4 linked regions of the Homo sapiens genome follow. The protein of the gene in region 4 purifies or fractionates together with the protein of the main gene of each other region. This does not show direct contact. Each region holds a gene or a part of one and is shown on either strand. Other genes may lie near its edges. The genes, in order: RSBN1L, LUC7L2, PLD1 and ZRANB2.

Region 1 (7,025 bases), on a different chromosome or scaffold from region 4:
CCTTTGTTTTTATGAGAGCCAAATATGCCAGCATTATTCATTAAATACATCTTCCTCTTCCCACCTATCTCATATATTAAGTTCCCAATATACTTAGATCTATTTCTGGACTCTTATTCCAATGATCTATTTGAACTTTATAGTAATTTTTAATATCCTGTATCATAAGCTGCCTCTCACTAATCTTCTCTTTCACTGAAAAGTTTACTTCCTTATGAATTTTAAAATAATTTTATCCAGGACTGGAAGTGTTAGTCCAATTGAAATGCAGAAAATTTTAAAGAACTATCATTTTTATCCAATCCAGAACACAGCAGGGCTTTCCATTTGTTCTGATCTTACTTTATATCCTCCACAAAACATTTTAGTCTTCTTAGTATAGGTTCTGAATATTACATTTATTCTAAAATAGTTTATATCTTATGACATTTTTTCCATCCATCATTACAATTTCTTGTCATTTGCCTACATTTCTCATGCTTTATTTACATTTTAGGTTTTATAACAAATTGTATTAGCATGTATCGCTATTTTTAAATTTATATTCCAATTATGCTCTAAACTTTGCATTCCTCCTTCCTCCAATTTTCAACTAACATACACACCCCAACATACAAACACTCATCCCCTCCAATAAAAATGTGTATACAACATACCTTTTCCTTTTGAAAGGTGACTTTGGCATATCAGCCACAGGGATCATTTGTTCTCCTGGACGAACCCACATGATGGGACCATCATCACTATCTTTTCGACTCTGTAATTTTAGACTAGATAGCGTCCCCCATGGCAGTGTACACTGGAGATAAATAATTATGCAGATTGCAATTATTTTCAAAATGTATCTTCAAGTGTATGTTAATAATAATATTGTTCCCCTGACAAACACACTTTCATACACAGCTTTATACTTAAGCATCTGAAATACATAATATTGAATATATCCCTATATATTGATATACTTTGCTTCAAAAAACTGTTTCAAACACACCAAGAAAATAATTATGCTTGGATGGTTCTGTCCCTATACCCTGCTAGAGGTATGATTCACTATATTCATCATTTGTTATTCTTCCTTCTACCATATAGATCATATGATGTTAACGGACTAAATAAGCAAGTGCTCTCATAAGAATCTATAAAAATGAACAATTAAATTTAAGTTTAAAAACTGGATACCTCTTTGATTAATGATAATTAAAAACAAAACAAAACAAAATCAAAACATATTTCTGTTCAGCAGTTTCTTGAAGAGGTTGTTGGCTTAAACCAGAGACTAAAGTATTTTAAAATGAAAGAACAAGGCTGGGCGCGCAGTGGCTCACGCCTGTAATCCGAGCACTTTGGGAGGCCGAGGCGGGCGGATCACAAGGTCAAGATATCAAGATATCGAGACCGTCCTGGCCAGCACGGTGAAACCCCGTCTCTACAAAATACAAAAATTAGCTGGGCATGGTGGCGCGCACCTGTAGTCCCAGCTACTCAGGAGGTTGAGGCAGGAGAATCGCTTGAACCTCGGAGGCGGAGGTTGCAGTGAGCCGAAATCACGCCACTGCACTCCAGCCTGGTGACAGAACGAGACTCCAAAGAATGAAAGGAGAGGGAGGGGGGAGGGAGAAGGGGGGAGGGAGAAGGGGGGAGGGGGCAGAGGAAGGGAAGGGGGAGGGAGAAGGGGGAGGGGGGAGAGGAGGGGAAGGGGGAGGGAAAAAGGGGGGAGGGGAGGGGAGGGGAGGCGAGGCGAGAGACAGAGGTGAAGGGGAAGGGGAAGAGAAAAGAGAAGACGGTGGCCGGGCACGGTGGCTCAGGCCTGTAATCCCAACACTTCAGGAGGCTGAGGCAGGCAGATCACCTGAGCTCAGGAGTTTGAGACCAGACTGGGCAACATGGAGAAACCTCATCTCTACTAAAGATACAAAAAATTAGCCTAGCATGGTAGTGTGTGTCTGTAATCCCAGCTACTCGAAAGGCTGAGGCATGAGAATTGCTTGAACCTGAGAGGCAGAGGTTGCAGTGAGCCGAGATCGCACCACTGCCCTCCAGCCTGGATGACACAGCGAGACTCCATCTGAAACCAAAAACAAACAAACAAAAAAAGACAGAGAGAGGGAAGAAGGAAACTGAGGGCCACTGTCCATGGAATGTTGAGAACAAAATTAAAAAAAAAAAAAATTTCACCACACACCCCCTTTTCAAAAAGGCTTGTCAAATTTCTTTAGAAACAATGCATTTAGGTTGGGTGTGGGTGGCTCACGTCTGTAATCACAGCACTTTGGGAGGCTGAAGCAGGAGGACTGCTTGAGCCCAGGACTTCAAAGCTAGCCTGGGCAACATAGCAGGACCCCATCGAAAGAAAGGAAGGGAAAGGGAAAGGGAAGGGGAAGGGGAAGGGAAGGGGAAAGGGAAGGGGAAGGGGAAGGGAAGGGGAAAGGGAAGGGGAAGGGGAAGGAAAGGAAAGGAGAAATAATGCATTTAGTTCATGTGCTTTGAAAATTAAACTTGAAGCAACCATTTAAGTAATATTTGGTAATTTTTAAATATAGTCCAATAATAAATGCAACCTAATTCCATGATGTAACTACTAGAGAGAAGTAGAAAAGGAACAAAAAGTTTAAAAGGAAAAGAGAAAAAGGAATGGAACAAGGTTAAAGAGAAAGGGAAGAAAAAGATATATGTACATATAGGGTAAAAACACCAAGCAAACAGAAGTAATAAAAGAAGAGATGTCCTATAGATTATGTGGTATCAGAAATCTTGTCACATTCCACAGCTTACCTGGACCCTGAATTTCAGTGTAGGTTTGCAGCATTGACCTTTGAGTTACTGATTAAATAATTAACCTAACCACACAGCTCAGAGATTCCTCTCTCAGTGGGATAGCCCTAGCACCTCACAATAAGAAATACTTTTTGAAAATCAAGAGGCTTTAAAAAAAAAAAAAAGGAATCTGGCTACAAACTATTTAAAGGGGCCTGTGGTGGTGGGCACAGTGGCTCACACCTGTAATCCCAGCACTTTGGAAGGCCAAGACAGGAGGATCACTTGAGTCCAAGAGTTCAAGACCAGCCTGAGCAACATGGTGAAACCCCATTTCCACAAAAAATACAAAAGTTAGCTGGGCATGATGGCATGTGCCTGTAATCCGAGGTACTTGGGAGGCTGACGTGGGAGGATCATCCAAGCCCACGGAGGTCAGGGCTCCACATTACACCACTACACTCCAGCCTGGGCAGAGAGTGAGGCTGTCTCAAAAAAATAAATTAAATAGAGGGGCCTTTGGCTACATTGTCTAAACATGTTATTTTATGGATGATGAAACTGAAGCCCAGAAAGTTTAAAGGGCTTGCCCAACCCAGATAAGTACAGCCATGGCTAAAATATGGGTGTGTAATTTCCCAGGCGAGTTTTCCTGGAATTTAGTTTAGGAATGCTAAACTGCCATTCCTTTGTCTTAAACATTTGTAGTAGAATCCTTCCTGTACTTCTTAAGTCCTTTAGTACTTAGTTTACAAAGAGCTGATAAACACATGGAACCTAATTTCCTAAAGTGTTAAGAGGTGTTATTTCATGGCCCACCACTTAGCTTTGCCATTACAATTAGAACCTGAGATGTCGCATGTACACACTACACAAGAATTATGTCAGTTTCCCATCTCTTGCTCTCCTTCCCTCCAGTTCAAATAAAACCAAAACGTTTCTATTTCTGAAACAGCCATTCATTTATATTGCATGTAGCATGAAAGAAACAATCACAATTTAGATTACTCATATTGGTTTTTCTTCCCTTTTTTAAAAAAAAAACTCTAATCCCATGACAGATTGTCTCTTACTTTTAAAAATGGTGACTCTTCCAACATGTCAAGGAACTCAGGGAAATAATCTCCTACTTCTTCATCAACTGCTCCCACCAAGCTTATTTGTCTCATTGGGCCAGCTCTGTAAGTACCATGAGAATACGTTCTTTTTACCTGAAGAAACATGGATTTAATTAAAAGTTAAATACGTTCTTTTTACCTGAAGAATATGGATTTAATTAAAAGTTACACATAAGATAATGCTTGCTATCATTTTGTAGCAATAAATTATTATCTCAGAATATTATATCATAATGAGGCAAGCAAAACAAAACTTTACTAACAGTAACAGATAAGGCATTTTAAAAATAAAACTTGCACTAAATCAAGCTATTTTACTTTCTCTAACTATTCCTACACACTGCTTATGAAAACAGAGTTAAGACAAATAAGCATTAATTCTAGACAACTAACATCTCCTTAGAACAGAGGAACTCATTATCTGAGTATTCAAAAGTTGGTGTACCTGCATTTTTCTAAAGTGAAATGAAGTTCATATCTTTTCATCAACATTTTCAAAATTAGACCCTCTGAAAACATTTAACCATCAACAGTGGCTTATATGACTAAAAGGCCACCAGGGATGCTCTTCTTTTTTGATCTTACCATATTAACTAGAAACCAGTTTATATACCTATTATTAACTCTCATGAGAAACTACTAGAAATTAAGAATCACAGCCGGGCGCAGTGGCTCACACCTGTAATCCCAGCACTTTGGGAGGCCAAGGCAGGCGGATCATGAGGTCAGGAGATCAAGACCATCCTGGCCAACATGGTGAAACCCCGTCTCTACTAATAATACAAAAAAATCAGCCGAGTGTGGTGGCCGGCGCGCGCCTGTAGTCCCAGCTACTTGGGAGGCTGAGGCAGGAGAATGGCGTGAACCTGGGTGGCGGAGCTTGCAATGAGCCGAGATTGTGCCACTGCACTCCAGCCTGGGCGACAGAGCGAGACTATGTCTCAAAAAAAAAAAAAGAAAGAAAGAAATTAAGAATCAGGAATCCTAAAATCCAAATCTGCCTTTGCTATCTACCAGTTACATGACCTTCAGAAATCATTTGCGTTCCTTGAGCTGTGGTTTCCTTAACTGGAATGTTTTACAGCAGATTGCTGAAGAAAATTTGATAATGATATAAACTCACCTGCCATAATGCTAGCAAATGGGTGGCATTCAAAGAGCCAAAACAAAGCCATGTGCACCTCAAGATTGATTGGTAACTACATTTCTTGCCAGCATATTTAAATCCTGACAAAGAAACCTATGTGTTTTCATATACTAACACTAGTAAACAAGCTGAGTCTGTCTTCAAGCGAAACAACTCGTTTTGATAACCAAATTATAAGCAAAACTGTAATTGTCTCTTTCTCTGGATTAGCCTTTGTGGACAACAAATTTAGGAGACCAATTTGTCCCAGTTTGCCCAGGACTATCAGTCTTAAAACTGAAAGTCTTGTATTTCAGGCAAACATGGATGGTCAACTTTTATCACATCACAGACACAGATTATAAAAGATAGTCACATCAAAAGTTGAATCCTTACAATCATAGCTGGTAAGAGTATCACAACGTAACAAAGTAAACCCCAACCCACATGTTTTCATACAAAATCATTTAAGGAAGAGAATCTCATTTGTTATTATAATCAGCAAAGCAGTTTAATAATGACATTAATTCTTTAATAAATTCACCAGATTTCTAAGCCTAAATTTTCCTAAACTGTTACAAATTGACTTCTCAGAACCACAAACCATTCCTACAAGTTAGAAAATTAAGGGCCTGTAAGCCCAGCACTTTGAGAAGTGGGAGGATATCTCCAGCCTGGCAGGTCCAGGCTGCAGTGAGCTGTCATCAGGCCACTGCACTCCAGCCTGGGCAACAGAGCGAGATCCTGTCTCAAAAAAACAAACAAATATAAGAACAGCTGGGGCTTATGCCCCCATTGTATGCTCATTGTCTCATCTTTTTCCTGTCGCCTAAAAATTCCTATCATCTCCAATATCAAGAGAGCTAACAGTTAAAGCCTAACTCTACAACAGTCTTCAGGCTCTAGATGCATTAATAGCAGCACAGTAAGAAATTCAGTCTATGCACCTCTGTAATGCAGTCTATCAAAGAAGCTAAGGGTATCAATCTCAACTCTAGCACATTTACCAGAATAGAACACATCAAGTCTGTTAAGTGATTCTGAGATTCTGAGTTTTGTGTCTGCAAATGACCATAAGGGGTTTTGAGAGACGATAACCATTTAGAAAGTGAAATCAAACAACTGATATTGTAAAACACAAATTTTCCAAGTGCTTTGAAATATATCTAAAAAGTCAAATTAGAGTTAGGGGTGGTGACACGAAACTGTAATCCCAGCTACCCAGAAGGCAGAGGCAAGAGGATCACTTGAGCCCAGGAGTTCAAGATCTGCCTGAGCAACACAGCGAGACCAAAAAAAAAAAAAAAAAAAAGTCAAATTATATATATTTCCACCTCATACAAATAAGTACATTTTCTGTGCATAAATTTCCTTATCTTGTTTAAATTAGATACCTACAACATTTAGTTCTAACAAAGCCATAATCAAGTCCTTGCCACTGAGTTGGTTCATTCTATGACATCACAGTACCAACAATGATCACCTAAATAATTTGGGCAGTTTATCTTGTGCGGAGGGGATGACTGTTAGGAAAGAATTTTCATTAAGTGAATTCTTCTAAAATACGAAGCACAACTAAACTTTCAATTTATCTAGTAGTTTTAAAAAGTCATATTATACATGAAATAAAACCAAAAAACTATAACATTATTAAATTATAGAGAGTAGGAGATAATATAATAATCAGAAAACCGGAACCAATTGTTAACACAGTCCTTGTAGAGTAAAATTTATGTATTTAAATGTGAGTAAAAACATGTATCATTGAGTAACAGGAAAAAATTGGGTAAAACTTGGGTGGTAATATTACAGACACATCATATGTTGTGTCATGACTCAAGAACTTTATTTACTAATTTTGCTTTGACCAGATGTTGCTATTTCAGGTTAGAATAATTATTTCATTGACTGAAGAAGTATTACTGACCTAGCCATCTCATTTCTTTCAAATTATACATTTACATTAATTTCCAAGTTTACAAATAATGCTTTTTATTTCAAAATAAAACAAAACACGTCTAAATTAG
Region 2 (7,025 bases), on a different chromosome or scaffold from region 4:
GAACTCCTGATCTCAAGTGATACGCCCATCTCGGTCTCCCAAAGTGCTGGGATTATAAGCGTGAGCCATGGCACCCAGCCTCACATAGGAAACTTCTTAGAGCAACTTAAAGTTGTTCAACTATGTTATACGTCTTTCTTATGTTTTACTAAGTCTAGTACAGTAAAACATATACAATTAATTATTATTAAAATCACCTTAAGAAATACTAAAAACAAGGCCAGAATATAAGAAATAAAATATTGAGAGCCTATTAACAAACTCAGCTTGTGAGTGATTTCAGGGAATGGAAAGTTGAGTCAAAAAAAAATAGGAAAGATTTTAACAGCTTTCTGTGGATTTTATTATAGATTTTATGTGGAGTAATCCACAGAATATGTAAGACTAGTAGGTACTAGGCACTCAAAAAATGTTTATCATACATATACTTCTGAATAGTTGTCAAGAAAAAAGCAATTTTAAACATGGCTTACGTTACACAGAAATTACCTGGTTTAAGGGCCATCATGTGACCTGAGAAGTTTTGACAGTTTGATCTATACAGACTATGAATGCTAAACTCTTCTACCACATTATAATCCTTTGTCTATCCTTAATAGATATTCAAGTCCTCAAACATACCTTACCCTATGCCTGCACCTTTTGAATGTTCTCATTAAACCAAGGGAAGTCTTGGAACCTCCTTATTAGTCTGCCTTGCCAAGCTGAAGGTATGTAACAATACATATCTATAGTGCAGATAAAACAAGAATATACTAGAATGTGTCTGCTCTGAAAAAGCATCCCAGCTCAAATAAGTTTAGAAAACAATAAATCAAAGCTAAACAACTCTTGTAATGAAAGGACTTCTCAGAGCCCCTAATTTGCTGATCCATACTAAGGGTATTGGTATTTAAAATTATTTACCTGTAAAGAACTTTTTTCCAAGACACACTAAGCAGAGAAAAGCAATAACCTCTACACATATTGGTTCCAATTTCTTGCTCTGGCTCATAAGTATATTCTTTCAAAACTACCCATATAATCACAGAAAAATGTTGTACACCCACACATAAATGTGTACATATTACCAGATGCAAAAGTTTCAAACCAATAATCTGAACTCTAAACATAAGTAACATAAGTAAACATAAACAACTCTAAAACATTAAGGTAGCTCCATATCCTCTGATTGACACATCAATACCTCCTCTTGGATCGTTCTCTGCTCCTATCTCTAGAACTGTGCCGACTTCTCTGGTGGCTACGGCTGCGGCTACGGCTGCTGGAGCGGGACCTGTGGCGATGGCGTTTCTCCCGAGATTTGGATCGAGTTCTCCTCTTGCGTTCACGTGACATGGAGCGAGATCGATGTCTGCGATGCTCTCTGGACCTGGATCTACCAGACAAGATTTGATTTTGTTTCTACCTTTGTAATTACTATATTTCTCATTTATTAAAGCCTTTTCTTTAAAGAGAAACTTTTTTTCAGTAGTCTTAATGTCAATTATATTCCAAGTCAGCTAAATCTACACTGAATTGCTGGTGTGTTAATAACTACATACTAGAATTCAAAATAAAACATTAATAATTCTCAGCCAGGCGCCGTGGCTCACACCTGTAATCCCAACACTTTGGGAGTCTGAGGCAGGAGGATCGCTTGAGCTCAGGATTTCAAGACCAGCCTAGGCAACATGGCGAAACTCTGTCTCTATAAAACATACAAAAATTAGCTGGACACAGAGGCACATGCCTGTAGTCCCAGCTACTCAGGAAGCTGAGGTGAGAGAATCTCTTGAGCCAGGGAGGTCAAGGCTGCTGCAATGACCTGGTGATCACATCGCTGCAGTCCAGCCTGGGCAAAAGAGTGAAATTCTGTCTCAAAAACAAGACACTGATTGATAATTCTCAGAGAGCAATCAGTAATGTATAAATTTATTATCAGAAATAGTTTTTCAAGTGAAAGCAACTTTTGAACCACTACTATATGCCAGGGGCTATATTATCTAGATTTGTTATGAATTTAATTGCACTTAAATATCTTGAACATTTTTGTATCCTCTAGAAATTAAATATGTACCTGACAGACCTGGACAGAAGGGAAGAGAAGAGATGAGGAAGAATACGTCAGGACAAATTACTCTTTGTCTGAATTAGAAAGGTGAGATAACCATAGAAGTAAGTTTTTAATGCCCACAATATGCATGTCTAGTCACAGTGTAATCAAAACAGAGTAAGGGCCAGGGGTAGTAGCTCACGCCTTTAATCCCAGCACTTTGGGAGGCTAAGGAAGGATGATCACCCAAGCCCAGGAAGTCAAGGCTACAGGGAGCTGTGTTCACACCACTGCATTCCAGCCTGGGCAATAGAGAGCAAGACAAAACAAACACAGTAAGACAGTTCTCTATTCAAGGAGCAAACAGTTTGGGAGAAAGAACACTTGCGAAAATCATTTTTGAGAACTTGACTCAGATTGCAAAAAAAATGTATTTCTAATGAATACACAGAAATAGAGAACGAAAAACATTCTGAAAAACCAGAAAATATACGATCAAGGTGCTGGCAAAATAAAGACATTTTTTGAAAAGAAAAAAACCCACAAGGTAAGACACTTTTATAGCCTCCACCAGGTCACAAACTAACTTGTGGGGTGGGTGGGGGTGCATGGTGAGGGTGGAAATGGCATGGAGAGGACATAAACGTTTGACAGAAAACAAGGGGAAACAAAGGAATGCAACTTTGTTAGAAGAGTCACTTTAAGAATGATGGAAATGTTCTCAACTGGATTATGGTGATAGTTGCACAGCTTTAAATCTGCTAAAAAATCACTGACTTCAGAGTAAATCATATATATATATATATATATATATATATATATATATATATATATATATATTTTATACCTCAATAAAACTCTTAAATTTAAGTCACTTTAAGAATGTGAGGTTTGCTCATAATTTGATACAGCAAGTTCAAAATCATATTATACATATGAGATAGTTTACAAATACAGTTTATCTTCAACTGATTGTTATGAACGATGCTAAAAGGCATTCAGCTTATGTCAACATTATAGTCAAAGAAAGGTACATGACATGGACGTAGCTTTAGCCACACTTAAAAAGAGTATTTCTGGCTGGGCACAATAGCTTGTGTCTGTAATCCCAGCACTTGGGGAGGCCACAATGGGAGGACTGCTTAATCCTTAAACGGGAGGAGTTCAAGACCAGCCTGAGCAACATAGGGAGACCCCGTATCTACAATAAATTTTTAAAAATTAGCTGGACATGGTGGCACACGCCTGTGGTCCCAGCTACTCAGGACAGAGTGAGACCCTGTCTCAAAAAAAAAAAAAAAAAAAAAGCGTTATTTCCACAGCTGAAAAGAGTAATTCCAAAAGGAAGCAGAGGGAAAAAATATAAAACTCTCAGTGTAAGTTTTATCAAATCATACTTCGTTTAACCACTCATTTTGAGTTATTATGAATGCCATTTCTTCCAATGTATAACTTTATTCATCTTTTTAAAAATTCTAGGTAATTTTTTCATCCAAAAAATATTCACTAGGTATTTTTGCACTGTTCTATACTAGGGGAGGTTGAGTAGCAAGTAAAACAAAGTTCCTGCACTAAACTTAGTGCTTATACTATAGAAAGGGATCTATACAGGTTTGTAGGCAGTAAATAAAGATATGTCAGGTGGTTAAGAAAAAAAAAAAAGATCTATTGCTGGACATGGTGACTCATGCCTGTAATCCCAACACTTTGGAAGGCTGAGGCAGGCGGATCACTTGAGGTCAGGAGTTCAAGACCAGCCTGGCCAACATGGTGAAACCCCTACTCTACTAAAAATACAAAAAAAAAAAAAAAAAAAAAAAAAAAAACTTAGCAGGGCATGGTGGCACGTGCCTATAATCCTAGCTACTAGGGAGCCTAAGGTAGAAGAATCACTTGAACCTGGGAGGCGGAGGTTGCAGTGAGCTGGCATTTTGCCACTGCACTCCAGCCTGGGCAACAGAGCAAGACTCCGTCTCAAAAAAAAATTAAAAGATGTTATTACGTAGAGTGGAAAAAGAGAAAAGAGTGGAAATATTTATACGGAATAAGCAGGGAAGGCTTTTCTGATAGGTTGGCACTGAAGCAAAGCTGAAAGAAGAAAGGGAACAAGTGAATCAGTCATCTCAGAGAGGAGTGCTTCAGGCTGAGGGAACACAGATGCAAAGTCCCTGAGGTGGGAAAAAGCTCAGCATGTTGAAGGAAAAGACCAGTGTGGCTGGAATGAAGTGAGCAAAAGGAAGTAATATCAGGGTCTTACAGGCAGGATGACCAGGTACTTTATCATTCAAACTAGAAGGCTCTGAATAAGTTACTGAATGTAATGAGAAGCTATTAATACATATTCTGGGATAAAAGACATAAACCAGAACTATCCCAGGGCAGTTTGGGCTATGCCAAGCTTGTCCAACCTGCGGCCTCCAAGCCGCATGCTGCCCAGGATGGCTTTGAATACAGCCCAACACAAATTTGTAAACTTTCTTAAAATATTATGAGATTTCTTTGCAATTTTTTTTCCAGCTCATCAGTTATCATTAGTGTATCTGATGTGTGGCCCAGGTAAGCCAAAAGATTGGACACCCCAGGCCACACCGTCACCCTATGTAAAAGCTTTGGTAAAGATGTTAACTTCTCATATGAATGAGATGAAAAACCTTTGGAGAATCAGAGGGCTGATGTGATGTATTTCATTTATTTAAAGGCTCATCCTGGCTGACGTGTGAAAAATAGAATGAGGTGAAGAAGGGGGGTGGGCAAGCACAGAGAACTAAGGAGCCCAGTTACAAGGCAAACATATTATCTAGGTAACAGGACTAGAGGAATAGAAATTAAATTTCTGGCCCAAATATCTAAAGATGTTCTATGTGCAATACTTTATGTTTTCAACAAAGGGACCAGCTTATATTAATCAAACAGTAAACAATAACAGTATCACAGTTTAATGTTTCTACTTATCATGCTAGATCAGAGAAATTCACCAATAATATAAATTAGCTGACACAACTGGCCCCACTTATTAATGTTCTTTAGTTTTTTTAGTGTTTTAGGCAGAAATATCATTGATAGATGTTGCTAACAGAACTGTAAGGTTTTTGTTTTTCTTTTTTTGAGACAGTCTTACTCTGTCACCCAAGCTGGAATGCAGTGGCACAATCTCGGCTTACTGTAACCTCCACCTCCTGGGTTCAAGTGATTCTCCTGCCTCAGCCTCTCAAGTAGCTGGGATTACAGGCACCTGCCACCACACCCGGCTAATTTTTGTGTTTTTAGTAGAGATGGAGTTTCGCCATGTTGGCCAGGCTGGTCTCGAACTCCTGACTTCAGGTGATCTGGCTGCCTCGGCCTCCCAAAGAGCTGTGATGGTATAAGCGTGAGGCACTGCGCTCAGCCAGGTTTTTCTTTCATAACAACAAATTCTCTACTTTTTAGGGAAAACTTCTTGGGAAATAGTCTCTAGAGCTGAGAACTCAGAAAGTTTCTAAAAGAAGATGTGATCTGAACAAGAGGAATGGTAGAATTTGGAAAAGACTGAGAAAGGGCATTCTAGGTGGGAATGGATCCATGAAGAAAGCTCAACGACTGGAATGAGAAGGGCAAGTGAAGAACTGAGAAAGAATGATGAAGTACAACACATTTCCCTGCCTTTCTCAGACAAAAAAATGTATCAGCAACTAGCAAAAACTACAAAGAAAGGTTTCAAACCCCAAATATTAACGCTGAAAGTCAAAACAAAGTATTGTCTTGCTCTTTTAAGGCTGCAAATGCCTCTCTGAAAGCCTTCTGTGATCACTGTATAAAGGAATGGGTAATAAACTCACATAAAGTCAAGACTGGAGGGTATACTAAACATTTTGGTTTTGCTTAACCCACAGTGGATCAATCAAAATTTTATCCAACTATTAACCTACTAATGTTTTCAACAGCTACAACCTCTTAGAACATGTTTCCTAAATGTACCACCCAAATTGATTTTTAAAAAATTAATCCTTTTACGTATCTACTCTGAGCATCTAAATGATTTCAAAAAAAATTTTCTTTTTTTTTTTTTTTTTTTTTTTAAAGACAGAGTCCTATTCTGTTGCCCAGGCTGGAGTGCAGTGGTGCTATCTTGGCTCACTGCAACCTCTGCCTCCCGGCTTCAAGCAATTCTGCCTCAGCCTCTTGAGTAGCTGGGATTACAAGCATGCATCACCGTGCCCAGCCAAAAAAGAAAATTTTTAAAGGACCATTTAATCAATCTATAAAAACTACCTTTGAAAAAGACAACTTCACTACTTATACCTGTCTTATGTAATACACCTACCTTTTTGGATTCTTGCTGTGTGATCGGGACCTAAAAAAAAAAAATATGTATTTTTAGAAAAGTGGCTATAAATAAGAAAACAGTGCAGTGTTACATTATATTCTTCCTGATTTCTAATGTTTACATTAATTTTATAAATACAAGGCGTGTACCTACGCACACAAAATTTTCCAAAAGACACCACAAACTCGACAGATTTCTTCACCTTGCAGGGTTTGCTTAACTCAAGAATACCTGGCTCTTAAAGAATATGTTCCTAGGAGATTAAAACACAGTACAGGTTGAGTACTCCTTCTCCGAAACGCTAAGGATCATAAGTGTTTCGGATTTTTTCTGTTTTTTGTTTTTGTTTTTTTTTTTTTTAATTTTTACATTTTTTGTTGCCTAGGGTGGTCTTGAACTCCTGGATGCAAATGATCCAACCACCTTGGCCTTCCGAAGTGCTGGGATTACAGGTGGCCGATTTTTTTCAAAATTTGAAGTGTCTGCATTATAATTTACTGGTTCAGCATCCCTAAATCCAGAAACCAAAATCTGAAATGCCCTAATAAGCATCTCCTTTAAATGCTGCCAGCACTCAAGAAGTTTCAGATTTTGAAGCTCACTGGATTTCATTTTTTGGATTTGGGATGCTCAACCTACATATCACAACTTGCTAATTTTCCAGAAACCACTTACCAGCTTGGAAAA
Region 3 (7,025 bases), on a different chromosome or scaffold from region 4:
GTGCTGAGATTACAGTCATGAACCACCGTGCCTGGCCCAAACATAATTTTTAAAAGGCAAATATACAATAGTATGTTTTCTAAATGAGATGCTCTGATTAAATGTGGTATTTAGAGATGCTCCAGAAGTCTGCTGTCTACATCCCTGGACCCAATCTCTACTCCAATGCCAGCCACCTGTCTTAGTCCACTCAGGCTACTGTAACAAAATACCATAGACTAGGTGGCTTATAAACAACAGAAACTTACTTCTCACAGTTCTGGGGGCTAGGAAGTCCAAGATCAAGGTGCTTGCAGATTTGGTGTCTGGTGAAGGCCTGCTTCCCCAGAGGCTGCCTTTTCACTAACCCGTCACTTAGTGAAGAGAGTCAGAGGTCCCTCTCTGGCCTCTTTTATAAAGGCACTAATCTCATTGATAAGGGCAGAGCCACCATGGCCTAATCATCTCCTAAAGGCCTCACCTCCTAATACCATCACCCCTTGGGGTGAGGATTTCAACATATGAATTTGAGGAAGACAAATATTCATACCACTGTACTGCCCTGAAACAAAGCAGTTTGAAAATCACTATCAAGGAAAATTGGAACATACAATCATTATAAAAGCCAGCCCATTTCAGGAGGCCTGGCAGGATTCTGCTGCACAATTCAGTCCTGCCTTTGGATGACTGCATTAGACTATAAGCTGTGGGGCTGGAACCACATTTTAGACTCACTAGCCTAGGCCTAGTACTGTGTTAGCACCAAAAAGACTCTGTGCTTGATAAATTCTTCAACACCATCCTGAAGAGGGGCTATTGCAAATACAGGATGAAAGCTTTCACTGCCAACTTTATTGGCCTTCCAGGCAATGGATCTGCAAAAATTACTTCACTGTCAGTCAAACCTACCCCGTGTATCTGGTGAGATCAGACAGGACGAACATATCCAACATGCGTTTCTGGCATGCCTTTCTTTTTGTTTCTTGTTTTTGTTTTGAGACGGAGTCTCGCTCTGTCACCCAGGCTGGAGTGCTATGGCACGATCTCAGCTCACTGTAACCTCCACCTCCTAGGTTCAAGCAATTCTCCTGCCTCAGCCTCCCAAGTAGCTAGGATTACAGGCACTCACCACCACACGCAGCTAATTTTTGTATTTTTAGTAGAGATGAGGTTTCACCGTGTTGGTCAGGCTGGTCTTGAACTCCTGTCCTCAAGTGATCTACCTGCCTCAGCCTTCCAAAGTGCCGGGATAACAGGCATGAGCCACTGTGCCCAGCCTATGGCCTGCCTTTCTTACAAAGTGATACACATTTCCCTAGTCCCCATGACACTACCAAAAACCACCCCGGTAGAACTCAAAAAAGGTAGGAAACAGGAGTTTCCCCAAATCAGTCTCATTTATGTTACGATACTTTCATGTTTAATCGATCCATTCTATCACAGATTATACACCCACATGACAGATGCAACTGAAACAAGTTTTTGCAAGCTCTCTGAAAACGACAGGAGGCATTCACATAGAAAGCTACAGATTTTATTTCTCATCAGTTGAGAGCAGCACTTTGTTCCAAATTGCAGTAATATCTCAGCAATGAATCATTGTCATAAAAACAGCAACATCTGTGAGGTCAGAAAAGAACAATTAGGAAAACAAATGAATCCCTTGGGAACCAGGGTTCACACTAACATCATATATTTATATAACAACTTGGAAAGGTAGTCATTCAACAAGTAGTTAGTGAGCACCTACTACATGTCAGGAAAGTCCCTACTCTCATAAAGCTTAAGTTCTTGTGTAGAAAACCCAGTAAGCAAGAAAAAGAGAAAAGAAAAAGAATTTCAGATAGTGGTGAATCCTAGCATGAAAATAACCCTAGGTGAAAGGCTGGAACAGGATCAGGTAGCAAGCAATGCAATGTGGACTGTGAAGTGAGGCAGCTTTCAATGGTCAGGGAAAAAACCTTTCCAAGGAGATAACATTTGACCATTTTGTCATTGATCCAAATGACAAAAAAGAAGGAAGCCATGCAAAGACTTAGGAGAAGTGTGCTCCAGGCAGAGGGAATAGCATGATTAAAAGGCCCTAAGATGGAACAAAGCTTGATGTGTTCTAAAAACAACCTTCCTAACAAACTCTGGAGATAGGCAACTGTAGTTCAGAAAGGTGAGAAACAAGTTGATCAAGGTTACACAGACGCTAAAGTAGAAATGAAACTTAGCACACCTGACTCCTCTGATAGTCTCCCTGCAACACGCTAGCTGCCTTCCTAGTTAGAAACCCAGGCTCCAATGAATGAGCATGAGAAATCAGGCCAATGGGGCAAAGAGTGGCCCCTGATTACCAAGTTTCACAGGATCAGAATTTGAGTTCAAACATAAAAATCGAGGCTACCATACAATGTGGCCAGGGTCCAGCAGCCCAGATGACCTGATTCTAAGCAAGGTACACAGGTGCCAGGGCTGGAGAGCAAGAGCCCACAAGAGGGGCCCAGAAGGCACATGGGGTGATCATCAAACTCCCAAGGGAACTTACAAAATACTATTTTGAGTCCCATTCCTCAAGAATCTAAATTTATTACATATGTGATAGAACCTGGAAATTTGTATTTTAAGAAGTTCCCAGGTGATTTTGTTTAGCCAGACTTTGGAACTACTGTGATGGAGAAGGAGGGAAGGCCAGCTCTTCAGGAGGTTGCAGGGAGAATTCTATCTCTACAAAAGGAAGAATCAAGGGTTAAATTGAATGCAGTTGAGACTTGTACCAGACCAGATCATAGGCACAGAGAGATAAGAACATTGCATAACTAAGCGTATTCCTTTCTCCCCAACCACATCCCCAAATTCAGAATCACTGTGACGGTTGACAGAAAAGTGCAGGAGAAATCTCTTTGGTCATAATGAGAAAGAAAGATGGGGTGGAGAAGCTCGGATATACCCCCTGGGCAAAGCCAGTGGTGTGCTGAGAAATGCTTAGCAACCAGGTCCGGGTGGAGGAGAAACCCTAACTGTAGTGTTTGCCAATTTCGATGGTGTAAATATTCCTGGAAGGCCAAGGCAGGAGGATCACTAGGTCAGGAGTTCAAGACCAGCCTGACCAACATGGTGAAAGCCTGTATCTACTAAAAATACAAAATAAGCCTGGCATGGTGGTATGCACCTGTAATCCCAGCTACTTGGGAGGCTGAGGCAGGAGAATCGCTTGGACCTGGGAGGCGGAAGTTGCAGTTAGCTGAGATAGCACCATTGCACTCCTGCCTGGACAACAAGAGTGAAATTCTGTCTCAAAAAAAGAAATTCCTATCATGGCCGCTTCCAAGTTACCAACATGATATCACTAGAACATACAGTTTGGGGAAGACGTGCAATAGTTACAGTATTTTCACCATATAGAAATAATAAACATAAATAGCATAGAGAGCAATAAATTTAGTAAAATAATTAGTAAGTCAGAGGTGTGGGTATTTATTATCTTTTAAAAATAGTTTTAACATCACAGTGATGTTAGTGCCAAAAATATACTTCATCCCCAAATTCTGTACTCCTACCTTACCTCTTACCTCTTTTTATTCCAAAGCAGGAATAATGGTGACATTTAAAAAACAATATCTAAAACATCATCTTCATTTTTTTTTCCTATTCTTAGCCCCTTTGGTTAAATTTCTCACTTTTGGGTCTGTATCTTCAGAGGACCACTGCCCTACACATCTGGAAATGTTTTTCTGCTCCAAGTCATAAATCTCCAATCCCAACCCATGGCTACCTACTCAAACTCTTTATTTCAAAGGACTCCTTCATCAGAAATTGGGCAGAAAAAGATCAATGAAGTGAGTACAGCTGTTTACCCAAAATGCCACAGACTGTCCATTCTACATCTACACATTTTATTTTTAAGAATAGTTAAATGGCACCATAGAGCAAATAAATAAGTAAAACGTTAATTATAAAGACTTATTTTCTGGAAATACCTATGTATTTTGAATAAAATGGATTACACCTTCTCCCTTCATCCATGTACCCTTTCATTCAGTTCACATCTATTGTACACTACAATGGACACTGGAGACACAAAAATGACAAAAACACAGTCTGTGACCTCAAGGACCTTGCCCTCTCACACGGAAGACAGACAATAGAAAAAATAATGGCAAATCCAGTGATTCTAATATCACACTACATATAAAATCCACCCATGGAAAGTGGCATAAACCAAACTAGACTAGACTGTTATGAAGATCCCAATCAGGGGCTAAGAGTTCCCTTGTATCTTATTGTCCACATGCTTTGTTGATTAGCAACAGTTTAAACATTAAGATCCCATCAAGATAAACCAAAGGAAAGATCATCTCCAACTGCTTATGAGATTTTGAAGGCATCATCCAGTGGTAACACACTGAGATGCAAGGCTTTTTGTAAAGAATTGACAAAGGTATTAGCTCCCTGCTTCCTATCTGTGGCCCTCTGCCAATGCCTCGTCTCTGCATTTGTTTCTCCCCTCCCTTTCTACGGCTTTCCTTTTCCCCATGTTTATTCCTATTCTCCTTCATCTAAATGTGCCATCTGTAAAAGCCTACTTTGAAAAAGATCACTGTTAAATTCTGAACCCTTATTTTCCTGTTCTTAATATAAAGTTCATAAGTTTATGGCCTCAGAAGTCTCTCTCTCTCTTTCTTAACAAAAGAACTGACTAAACTAAGTTATTTTTATTTCCATGTTGCTTTTGGCTGGTTTTCTTTTGTGCGTCAGAGGCTTCCAAAAGGTTCCCAACTCTAGATCCAAAAAGTTCAAAAAATGATTGAGTACAGAATAAAATATTGCCCTCATCCAGAGGGGAGCTGAGGGTCACGGGCATTAGGAGCAACGGGGGAAGCAATCCAGGATTCTGGAGCCCTAGGAAGCAAGACCTGCCATGACCCAGTCGGCCATAATGTGGGCCCTTATTTAGCAGATTAGCTCTAGTATGGTCATAACAATTATTAAAATATTGAAATGCTTCCCTCTGGAAATATTGCACATAACACCCAACCCCTTCCAAATACACCTGGCCTCCCAGACTCTCCCAGGATCCCTGGCCCAATCTCCTCACAATCAGGAGTTAAGGCCTGGCCCAGCAGAGGATCTCCAGGACCCTGCCCCAGTGCTTCTACCCTTTGACATACCCATGCTCCACCTTAATTTCGTTTTCCGAAAAATAAAGGACTTGAACAGATTGTCTGAGTTGCACTATAATTGCAATTATGTCAAAGAACAAGGACGAAATGGAAATAAAAAAACCTAAAAAAAAGTTTGTTAAGAGGATGGAATCACAGGTTATGTTTTTTTCTAGACAGACAGCAGTGTCAAAACTCTGGGTGCAAGCTGCCTGGGATGGATCCCCAGCTCTACCATGTGCTAGTTGTGGGATCTCACTATGCCTCAAACTGCCTCATCTATAAAATGGGCATAGGCCAGGCTCAGTGGCTCATGCCTGTGAATCCCAGCACGTTTGGAAGCCAAGGTAGGAGGACCACTTGAACCCAGAAGTCTGAAACTAGCCTGGGTGACATAGCAAGACCTCATCTCTACAAAATAAAATACAGTAAAACAAACATAAATAAATAAATTAAACGGCCATAATAAGATTACCTACTTTACAGGGTTGTTCTGAGGGTTAAATGTATTCATGTTTGTAAAATGCTTAGATGAGTGCAAGGCACAAAGTAAACACCACGTAAGTGTTTATTAAATAAATAATTCATTTTATTCTGTCGTTGTAATGTTTGCTCAATAAATTTAAAAATTAAGAAAGTTTCACAACAGAAAAAAAACACTGTGACACTATGAAACACTTACGTAACATACACTTTTGCTTAATAACCCAGCACTAAAACAGCTGGGGTCCAGATTTTACACTGCACTGTGAATTTAGGGAAACTAACACACTGGAATGTGTTCCCACTGAAGCATAAGATGCGATTTGTATGATTCTCTTTGTAATCAGAAATGTCACAGGCTTATGGGAAAGTTAGGTTTACATGTTTCTCATTTTAACCCTGCAACAACTTTTAGCCACACCCTAGCAAATACATTTTATTTTGTGGTGCTAAGACTTAAAGGATTGTAAACACAAAACCAGACCTTGCAGAGCTACAGCTTTTCTTGTGAACACAATGACTCAGCCTAACTACAAGTTTAAAGAGACATATCTTATGTGTTGGGTCCCCTAGTATCAATCTTTAGTAAACATCTGGGATGGACAGGAAATTGCTACACACTGCTTTTAGTTACTAAAAAGGCAACACTACCTGAGCTCAAGCATAGTTTAGATAGGTACTATTTGCACTGCTATAGAGGACAACACTGACAATTGTTATTTTTCTGATAGATACTCAGGAGAGGAAATGATCAATAACAATAATTCCCTTACGTGTTCCTTCCTCTTGACAGCTAAACCCCACAATACCCTTAGACACAAGTTTAAATACATCACAAGCTTATCCTCAAACAGTAATGTATTAGGTCTTTCCTGCTGTAGATAAGATTTGTTAAACAGTCTGGCTATGGCTTTTTACCTTTTCTCTTTTAAAAGTGCATTTCTCAGCTGGGTATGGTAGCTCATGCCTGTAATCCAGCACTTTGGGAAGCCGAAGTAGGAGGATTGCGGGAGCCCAGCTGTTCAAGACCAGCCCTAGCAACACAGTGAGACGCCATCTTTATAAAAATACAAACAAAACTGGCCAAGGATGGTGATGCGCACCTCTAGTTCCAGCTACTCAGAAACTGAGATGGGAGTATCACTTGAGCCTAGGAGGTCAAGGCTGTTGTGCCACTACACTCCAACCTGGGCAACAGAGTGAGACCCTGTCTCAAAAAAAAAAGTTTAAAAGGTGCATTTCTCTAAAGCTACGAGAAGGAACTCAAACCTTGCTTAGTGATAAAACTAAAGCCTGCAACACAACCATTATCATTAAAATGTTATTAAAACCCTGTAAGAAAGATGAAGAGTCTTGTGGATGGATGGTGGTGACGGTAGCACAACGATGTGAATGTATTTAATGCCACTACATGTA
Region 4 (8,009 bases):
ATAATTAGACTTAATTACTTACGGCACACAACTTATGAATCTAACATTATTTTGTAAACAGGCAAAATGAGTTTTGTGGTGTATTTCACACTAACTATACAGTCTAAAAATTGGGATTTTTCAATAAAGGAAGTAATAGGCCTTAGTACTTTTAAGTACCACCACCCCCCGATTGGTTTTGAGCTTACCATAAGCATTTGTTTACTGGTATACATAATCCATCATAGTGACAACTATTACCATTAAAAAATGCAAAGAATAATTTAAAACTTCTTTATACTATACTTAAAGATGAGACTGAATAACAATACCTTGGATTTAAAAGGTTACCCTGGCTTGTCAATGTCACTAATAAGAGCTGTAATATAAACAAGTAGTGGCCAGATCTATTATTTTGGAAGAAAGAGCAGACAATAATTTAAAAAACATACGTTTTACATTGCCAGTCATTAGCACTAAATAGGCCTCGGCTCTTTTCTGCAAGTGTCTTTCCTATTTCAGTGCCCCCAGCTTTCATCATCTTGGCCTCAGTTGTTTTCTCTGAAAACAGAAAAATCATGCAATATGAACCTGGAGAAATAAATAAATGATACATATACAGTATAAATAGAATCTTCTTTAAATACTTACCCCGACCACATCGATTACAGCTGGTTCTTCTAGCAAAGTTTACATTTCCACATCTAAAAACAGATTAAAAAGCATTTATAAAAATTTAAATTTGTAAAATTTTACATTTTAACTTGTCCTCACTACATATCTGGAATTCATAACTTCTAATCCATCTTAGTCATGTTAATGTCAATGTTACCAACAAAAAACTCCACACAATTTACTGGGGGAAAAATACTTGATTGGAGCCACAAATTCAGAATAAGATATCCCAATCCTCCATTTACCAGTCATGTGATCTTGATTAAGTTACTTAGGATCTCTGCCTCAAGTCCTCACATTAGCACATATCATTAGTTATAATCCCTTTACAAAGTTGAAAGTGAGAGTTAACTCCACTTCACTAATTACTTACAAGCTACCAGGGAGTTTTAAACCCTAGCGGTGGACCAATGAGGAAAAAAACTTATAAATCAAGGAGGGCTTCATGGATCTTAATGAAATTATCTTTTTACATGCAGTAGGTAGGATGCTAAGGAACCAAATATGATAGGTTGTACTGACTAAAAATACAAAAAGATTCAATAATTGTAAGAAAACTGAGTTTTACAGGGCATTTCTCAAACCTCTGAGACTTCGCTGAAAAAAATGACACAACCACCAAAACCAATAATCTCAACACATGTAGTACAGTAAGACTTTATGCTTATACTCAACAAACTCAAACCTAAAGAATTACTGGTTCACTCACATGACCTTAGAAGTGTACGTGTATATTGGTAAAAGTATGTTAAATGCTCTGGATAACATGGAATGCTTAAACTTTAAAAAGCTGATTTTTAAGGCATTATACTAGAATACAATACAGATGTGAAGTATGGGATGACACTAAAGTGAAACACTCTAAATAATATTTAGGTTAAGTTTTTCCCCTAAAAATATTCCTTTTAACTCCATTAAGCATGGAAAATATACTCTGAAAATTTATCCTGCATTTAAACATATTGTACAAACAACATTCTATTCATATATTTGTAAATGAGTTGAAATGAACTCTCATTGAGAGTCCTACCTCTGGGTGTGCTGTCATTAAAGACACTGACAAAAGCACATTATTTTACAGGTAACAACAAAGTCAGAAGTTGTTGTTCTAAATCTTTTGAACGTTTTCAATAATGTCTTACCACTCAGAGCAATACTATCCATAACATATAACTTTGGTTCTATTCAGTATCATTTGTTAGGCTTGAACTACTCCTTCAGGTCATCTTAATATCAAATTACTATCAATAGCCACCAATTAGAATTTGCTACACGTCACTGTTTACACACCCTATCCATGTTATTTCATGTTTTCATTAAAAAAAAAATTCTATTCCTTTTTTAGCAGTTAAATAAGTAATAGAATTTTAACTAAACCCAGGTTTATTTCAAAGTTTTTGCTTTTTACAATCAAAACCTATTTGTGGCTAACTTAGGTACAACAAATAAAAGGCTTTTATGTGAACATGAGTTGTACATTAAATTATTTTCCATGTTATTTCCGAATAGATACACCTATTTGTGCACCCTTCAAAAAAAATCTGATTAACTATCTAGTCGAGTACTGGCTTTGGCAACAATGTCAAAAAGCAGAGCCACTAACACACGTGCTTCTCTGCTGCAGGCATCTTAAGGGCTGAGTAGGCAAAAACACAGGCCTCTTCCCTCCTTTTCGGCTCTAAGGAGGCGAAAAGCCCAATTCTTGTGGAGAAATGATCCACAAAGAAAATGTCAGAATTTCCCAAACCGAAGAGGGTAGAGCTTCCGGAAAAGGGGAAAATAGTATGGAGGAAAAGTTTGAGTAAAAATACAAAACAAGGTGAACTATAAGAGGCAAAAGGACGAGTGCGAGAAAGCAATATTTTCCGTGAACAAGAGTAAAGTTCTGCAGAGAAAAGTCACGTGGGGGAGATCCAACACCAAGCTGGCCTGACTGGAGAGGTTTCCTATCGCTAAAACCTGGCCGGGGCGGGGGAGGGGGGTGGGGGCAAAAAGGTAGGCCATCTCGCACTCTAAAAAGAGAGGCTACCTTGCGGAGGTAATGTCGAGGAAACGCTGAAGACATATCTAGAACAAAGGCTCCCGGAAAGACCTCTCTCGTGAGGAGATTGGGAGCCTTCTTCCCGCCAGGGAACTGGCGGTTCGCCGCCTCAACCCGTCTTAAGGCACAGAAAATCATAAAAAAGGAAAATGCCGGACGGACCTCGGAAAGCTTCCACTAACAAACTCCGTCCCAATTCAGGACCCTTCTTGAACTCACTTTTTGTCAGGGCAAATCCAGTCCCCGTCACTGACTCGGAAATTCTTGGTCGACATCTTGAACGCCACCAGCACAGCCACCCGCAGCTATGTCTTCACAGGAGGAAAACGGGCCGGGGACTTTCGGCAACTCGGGGCTGTCCCCACACTGCCTGACTCGCGCCTACTACTGTGTCAGGGTTTGATAATGAGGGAACTAGCCAGGAATTCAGCTTGTACGTTGTTGTCCAGACTAAGATGCCTGTGCTACTGTTTGTTAGATGGAAAAGTTAAAATACAAATATCTTTTCTAGAACTAAACTCACAGGCGCCATAAGGACAACCCAGGCAGGAGGCCTTCGTGGCACTAGAAGCCTCGGAGAGCCCCCTACAGGTGGGAGGACCCAAGAGTAAAGTACTTCCGCTTCCTTAGGTGGAGCTGGAAAGGTGGAGGCGGAAGTGACTGATCAATTCAGGGGCGTGGGGTTCGTTTAGGGTAAGAGGCGGCTCGGGCTCTTCAAGTGTTTAGAGAAATTATTTTAATAAGGCATAAAAATTCTGTTATTTCATACACATGGGATGTCGTTTGGAAACCTATTTTTATATATACATAAATAGGTGTAACAGATAAGTAAGCAACTTATACATGGGAACCAGCTGGTAATTTTAAAACTGAGACATTGTCAACACTGTTTAAATTACCAGTGTCTTTTCTGATACCATCCCATTACTTTCTTCCACAGATAACACTTTCCCATATTTGGGATTTATTCTTTTGCTTTTTAAAAATTTATGTACGTTGTTAGTCCAAACTGCACCATTTTTGTAAGCCCCCCTGCCATTTTGCAGACCTTAGTCAAAGTGAAACATTCCACGGGGTTCGGGCGTGAGAAACAGGCTGCCTCTTATACTCTGCTGGGAGAAAGTACCACATTCCACTGGAACAAGGGCCAGAGCCGCCTCGTCCTGGGAACACCTTATCAACATGTTCCCAGGAAGCAGGCCATGGCCCCCCAGACCACTCCCACCCAGGCCTATAAATCACCCCAGCCTGTAAGAAGCAACGGGCACTGGCATTAAGCTGGTCTCCCACCTCTGTAGGTCTTATGCTGGACATAAATCCTGTATTTGTTGTTAAGCCACCCTCTCTTTCTTTAATCCTTGCCTTCCCTTCAAAACCTAACATACATGTATGTTTAATTTTATGAGCTGTGTAAGCATAGTTGATTCTGTACTCTTTTTTTGTTCATTATGCTTCTAAATTAATCCTAGGTAGTTGCATGTAGAAGTGTATAGGTGTAATTCTTTTATTTGCACTGATGTATACTGATACTATTCCGTTTTGTGGTTTTGTGACAGTTTATTCCTTCTGTTTCTCAGGCTTGGTATTACAAACAACACCAGTATGAGCATTCTTATGCATAGATTCTGGTATATAAATGCATTAATTTTTTTTAGAATACAGCATATACAGTCATGCCTCACTTAATGATAGGGATATGTTCTGAGAAATGCCACTTTCGGCAATTGTGCTGTTGTGTGAACATCATAGAATGTGCTTACACAGGCCTAGCAGGTATAGCCTACTACACACCTAGGCTATATGGTATAGCCTATTGCTCCTAGACTACAAACCTGCATTTAGTACATCTTATTGTACTAAATACTGTAGGCAGTTGTAACGCAGTGGTATTTGTGTATCTAAATATAAAGGTACAGTAAAAATATGGTATTGTAATCTTATGGGACCACCTTTGTATATGTGGTTCATCATTGACTGAAATGTCTTTATGCAAGTATGATTATGTTTAGGAGAGAAATTGTTCAACTACTCTCTAGTTATGATTGTTGCTTTAAAATCTGTATTATAACATTTTGGTCATCTAGGAGTTAGCAGGTGTTGATTATATTTTCCCTTGCAAGTTGGTCACATTTTTCCAGTTCTTTTATACTGTGTAATTGTGGATTTTATCTAGGACATTTTGAACATTATGTTGCATAGACTGAGTCCTGTTAAAAGCCTTTAGGGAATGTTGATTTTTTTTTGTTTTAGAAGGCAATCGATCCAATTTGGTTCAGGTCAAAAGTTCGGTCTCATCTTCTATGAGTACTGGTTCCATGTCAGCTGGGTTTTCAAAGGCTTTGCTGTGTCCTATACCTACAATACTCAGGGATTATTTGGGGATGTTAGCAGTAGTTTAAATTGAAATTCAGTTTTGCTATGCTATTTTGTGTTTGTTCTGCACGTGTTCAGTTTAGGTGTGAACACAGAACTTGTATAGGTTCATACATAGAATTAGGGGATCCTCTTCTCTAGCTCTCTCCTCTTACATTCTTCTCCTTTTGTCTCGCAAGGTCCTCTCACCAGAAATATGAGGTTCCTCTTGGAGTTTTAGCAGCCTGGCATAGCAGCTGACTAGGGCAGATTCTGAGACAAAGCAGTGACAGAAAAGAGAGAGAAAAAATGTGGATTCCCTCTACACTCTTCAGACCACAAAGGCCTCCTTTTCTACTTCCTTTGTCCATAAAAACAGAGCTTCTGTTAGTATTGTAGATACCCAAGCCTAGGGCCTCACTCTTGGGCCAATGCCCAGAGAGAGAGAGAGAGAGAGAGAGAGAGAGAGAAATTAAAAAAAAGAAAGAAAAACCAGAAGAGGGGGAGCTAAGTATTCCCCCGACTAACTTTTGGCTCACAAAAGCCCCCTATCCCCATTCTGGCAAGACATACAGGTTTCTGTCGGTTTTTCCTGTCACCACAGTTTCACTAGGTGTTGGGCCTTAGGTCAAAAGCTGTGAGAAAAGAGGAAAAGCAAACATACAGAACATTTCTCCAGGTTTTCATTCTCCACTCCAATTTACCTGTTTTTGTTTTTGTTTTTCCAGAGTCTTCAGGCAGTTGCTTTTGGTATTTTGTCTTGAGTTTCTCACTGTAATCATTAGGAAAGATAGGTTATTGTGGGCTTTCTATGTCTTGGTTGGTACTGCAAGTCAGGGGAATGCAAATTAAAACCATATGATACCATTATGCATTCATCAAACTGACTAAAATGAAAAATCAGAGAATACTAAGTGTTGGAAAGCATGTAGAGCAACTGTAATTCTCATACATTGCAAAAAGTAATTGATACATCTACTTTGGAAAATGTCGGAATATATTAAATCTGAACATTTTCGTACACTATGACCCTGAAATTCCATTTTTAGGTATATTACCAACAGGAATGCACATAATGTTCACTGAAGATGTATATAGTAATGTTCAGAGCTGTACTATTCAAAATAGCCCAAACTGGAAGCTTCCCAATTGCTTATCAGTGGTAGCCTAGATAAATAAATTGTCATATGTTTACACAGTTGGAATGTGTAATACAGTAGCAAGAATAACAAATTACACTCAGATTATTGAACAGTATTTCACTCACAAATACAGTCTTGAATTGAAAAAAGCAAGACACAAAATGGCATATGCTATATGACTCCATTTACATGAAGTTCAAAAGCAGCCAAACTAATCTTGGATAGTGATCACCCTTGGGAGTAGAGAGGAGATAGTGACTTCATGGGGTCAATAGGAATAATAGATGCCAAAGCTGGTAGATGACATGCAGTTAATGCAACAACAGTTAATCAACTGTACTAACTGTAATTAGCAAAATTTTTCTGGGAGAATTATGTGTCAAGAGAAAAATCCTCTATAGTAAGTCTAGGATAATGAACAAAATGCGTGAATACATCTGATAATGACCAGAAGAGGTTATTTGAGTTCAAGGACTTTAGCTGATTTTTCAAAGAGAAATATTCCTACAAAAGAAATTCATTTCAGCTATCCTAATTTGAAAGAAAAATTCTACCCATTCTCTTTATTCTTATTATATGCTCACCAAACAGCCCTCTGATAATTTGTCTTCTCTCCTGAGCACACTTAACCTACTGTGGTGAAATTCCCAGAGTGAATTTATCCACACAAGTTGTTCATCTGGATTAAGCTCTCTTTATAGATTGAGAAATTGGCACTCTGAAATGCATATCAGTTGTTTATGGGTCCTCTTAATATGTTGGTCCCCAGGAGATTAGCTCTGGTGGAAATGGTAAAGTTGAGTTTCTGAACCTACAAAGCTAAGAATCTGGCTCTAAATATTGCATTAGGGCTCACTCTGCTTGCAAGTAACAAAAATAAAAATAAAATGACTTAAACAACAAAAAGGGGGAGCATATTATAAAGAGAAGGTGGTGTTTGATGGAATGCCAGAGCAGGAATGCAGTTTCAGAAATATCCTAAAAGAAACTATCCTCTATTCAAGCAGCACCCTTTCTCTGTCTCTTTGCTGAATTTGTTCTGCATATGCGTTATTCTTTCCTCAGACTAGCTTTTCTGTTACCTAGTTCAGAAGACTGAAAAAAAAAAAAAAAGCAATACTGCCCTTAGACCTGGGCAACCAGGGCTCCTAGCCTGGTCCTGCACCTGGCCTTCCTTGAGGTGCCCTAATTCCCCTCGAGTGTCTTGGACCATTCAGCAGGATGGAGCCAAAATGTAGTACTATGTGGGTCCTGGACAGTGGAAGTCCTGAGATGTTCTATTGCTTTTGGTGGTGGGGACCAGCCAGGTCAGCAGGACCTGTTGGGTGGGACAGTCCTAAGCCTAAAGAAAATGTTATTGGCTTCTTTGTTTCTTCCCTTCAGGCCCTCCTGACCATATTGCCCTCTTAACATGCTCAGGGTCCACCAGTGCAGCAGGATCTCTGGTACTAGCACCTGTAGGGTGGCTTAGGGCCAGATGGCCCTGCCAGTTCCTGGAGAGCAACTTGGAGGGCCAAAGCTCCCACTGGCTGGGGCATTATTTCTTTCATGGCATTATTTCTTTCATCGCACAAGTTTGGGCCACCAGAATGATGCTTTTTCAGTGGTTTGAGGGTGATTTTCACTAATATCAGACACAGGATGAGTTCAGTGCTCTGGGCTACCACTGTCCCCCCATGCATCCTTGGTCTGGAGCTGACTGTGTGAGCCAGTATGTGGGCTCTTCCCTGACTGGTCAGACCAAGGAACCACCTCTAGTGGAGAGCACTTGAAAAAGGTATGTGTGTCTGCAGACATCCTTTATCCTGGGGTCTCCTGCC

Evidence for each region.
Region 1: the proteins of ZRANB2 (region 4) and RSBN1L purify together in Homo sapiens (affinity purification with mass spectrometry; 3 studies listed by BioGRID and IntAct, with this or other methods). This does not show direct contact.
Region 2: the proteins of ZRANB2 (region 4) and LUC7L2 purify together in Homo sapiens (affinity purification with mass spectrometry; 5 studies listed by BioGRID and IntAct, with this or other methods). This does not show direct contact.
Region 3: the proteins of ZRANB2 (region 4) and PLD1 purify together in Homo sapiens (affinity purification with mass spectrometry; 3 studies listed by BioGRID and IntAct, with this or other methods). This does not show direct contact.

What each region holds. Positions count from the first base shown.
Region 1 is NC_000007.14:77,762,435-77,769,459, reverse strand, and holds part of RSBN1L (lysine-specific demethylase RSBN1L), read right to left. Parts: intron 3,966-7,025; coding exon 3,828-3,965; intron 800-3,827; coding exon 657-799; intron 1-656. UniProt on the Homo sapiens protein: Lysine-specific demethylase that specifically demethylates methylated lysine residues of proteins.
Region 2 is NC_000007.14:139,411,891-139,418,915, reverse strand, and holds part of LUC7L2 (putative RNA-binding protein Luc7-like 2), read right to left. Parts: intron 6,366-7,025; coding exon 6,336-6,365; intron 1,455-6,335; exon of another isoform or gene 1,379-1,454; coding exon 1,187-1,378; intron 1-1,186. Other genes in the region: FMC1-LUC7L2 readthrough protein, read right to left, coding at 1,187-1,378, 6,336-6,365. UniProt on the Homo sapiens protein: May bind to RNA via its Arg/Ser-rich domain.
Region 3 is NC_000003.12:171,800,472-171,807,496, forward strand, and holds part of PLD1 (phospholipase D1), read right to left. Parts: intron 1-7,025. UniProt on the Homo sapiens protein: Function as phospholipase selective for phosphatidylcholine. Implicated as a critical step in numerous cellular pathways, including signal transduction, membrane trafficking, and the regulation of mitosis.
Region 4 is NC_000001.11:71,078,026-71,086,034, forward strand, and holds the start of ZRANB2 (zinc finger Ran-binding domain-containing protein 2), read right to left. Parts: upstream 3,011-8,009; 5' UTR 2,971-3,010; coding exon 2,915-2,970; intron 684-2,914; coding exon 631-683; intron 541-630; coding exon 432-540; intron 1-431. UniProt on the Homo sapiens protein: Splice factor required for alternative splicing of TRA2B/SFRS10 transcripts. Binds to ssRNA containing the consensus sequence 5'-AGGUAA-3'. May interfere with constitutive 5'-splice site selection.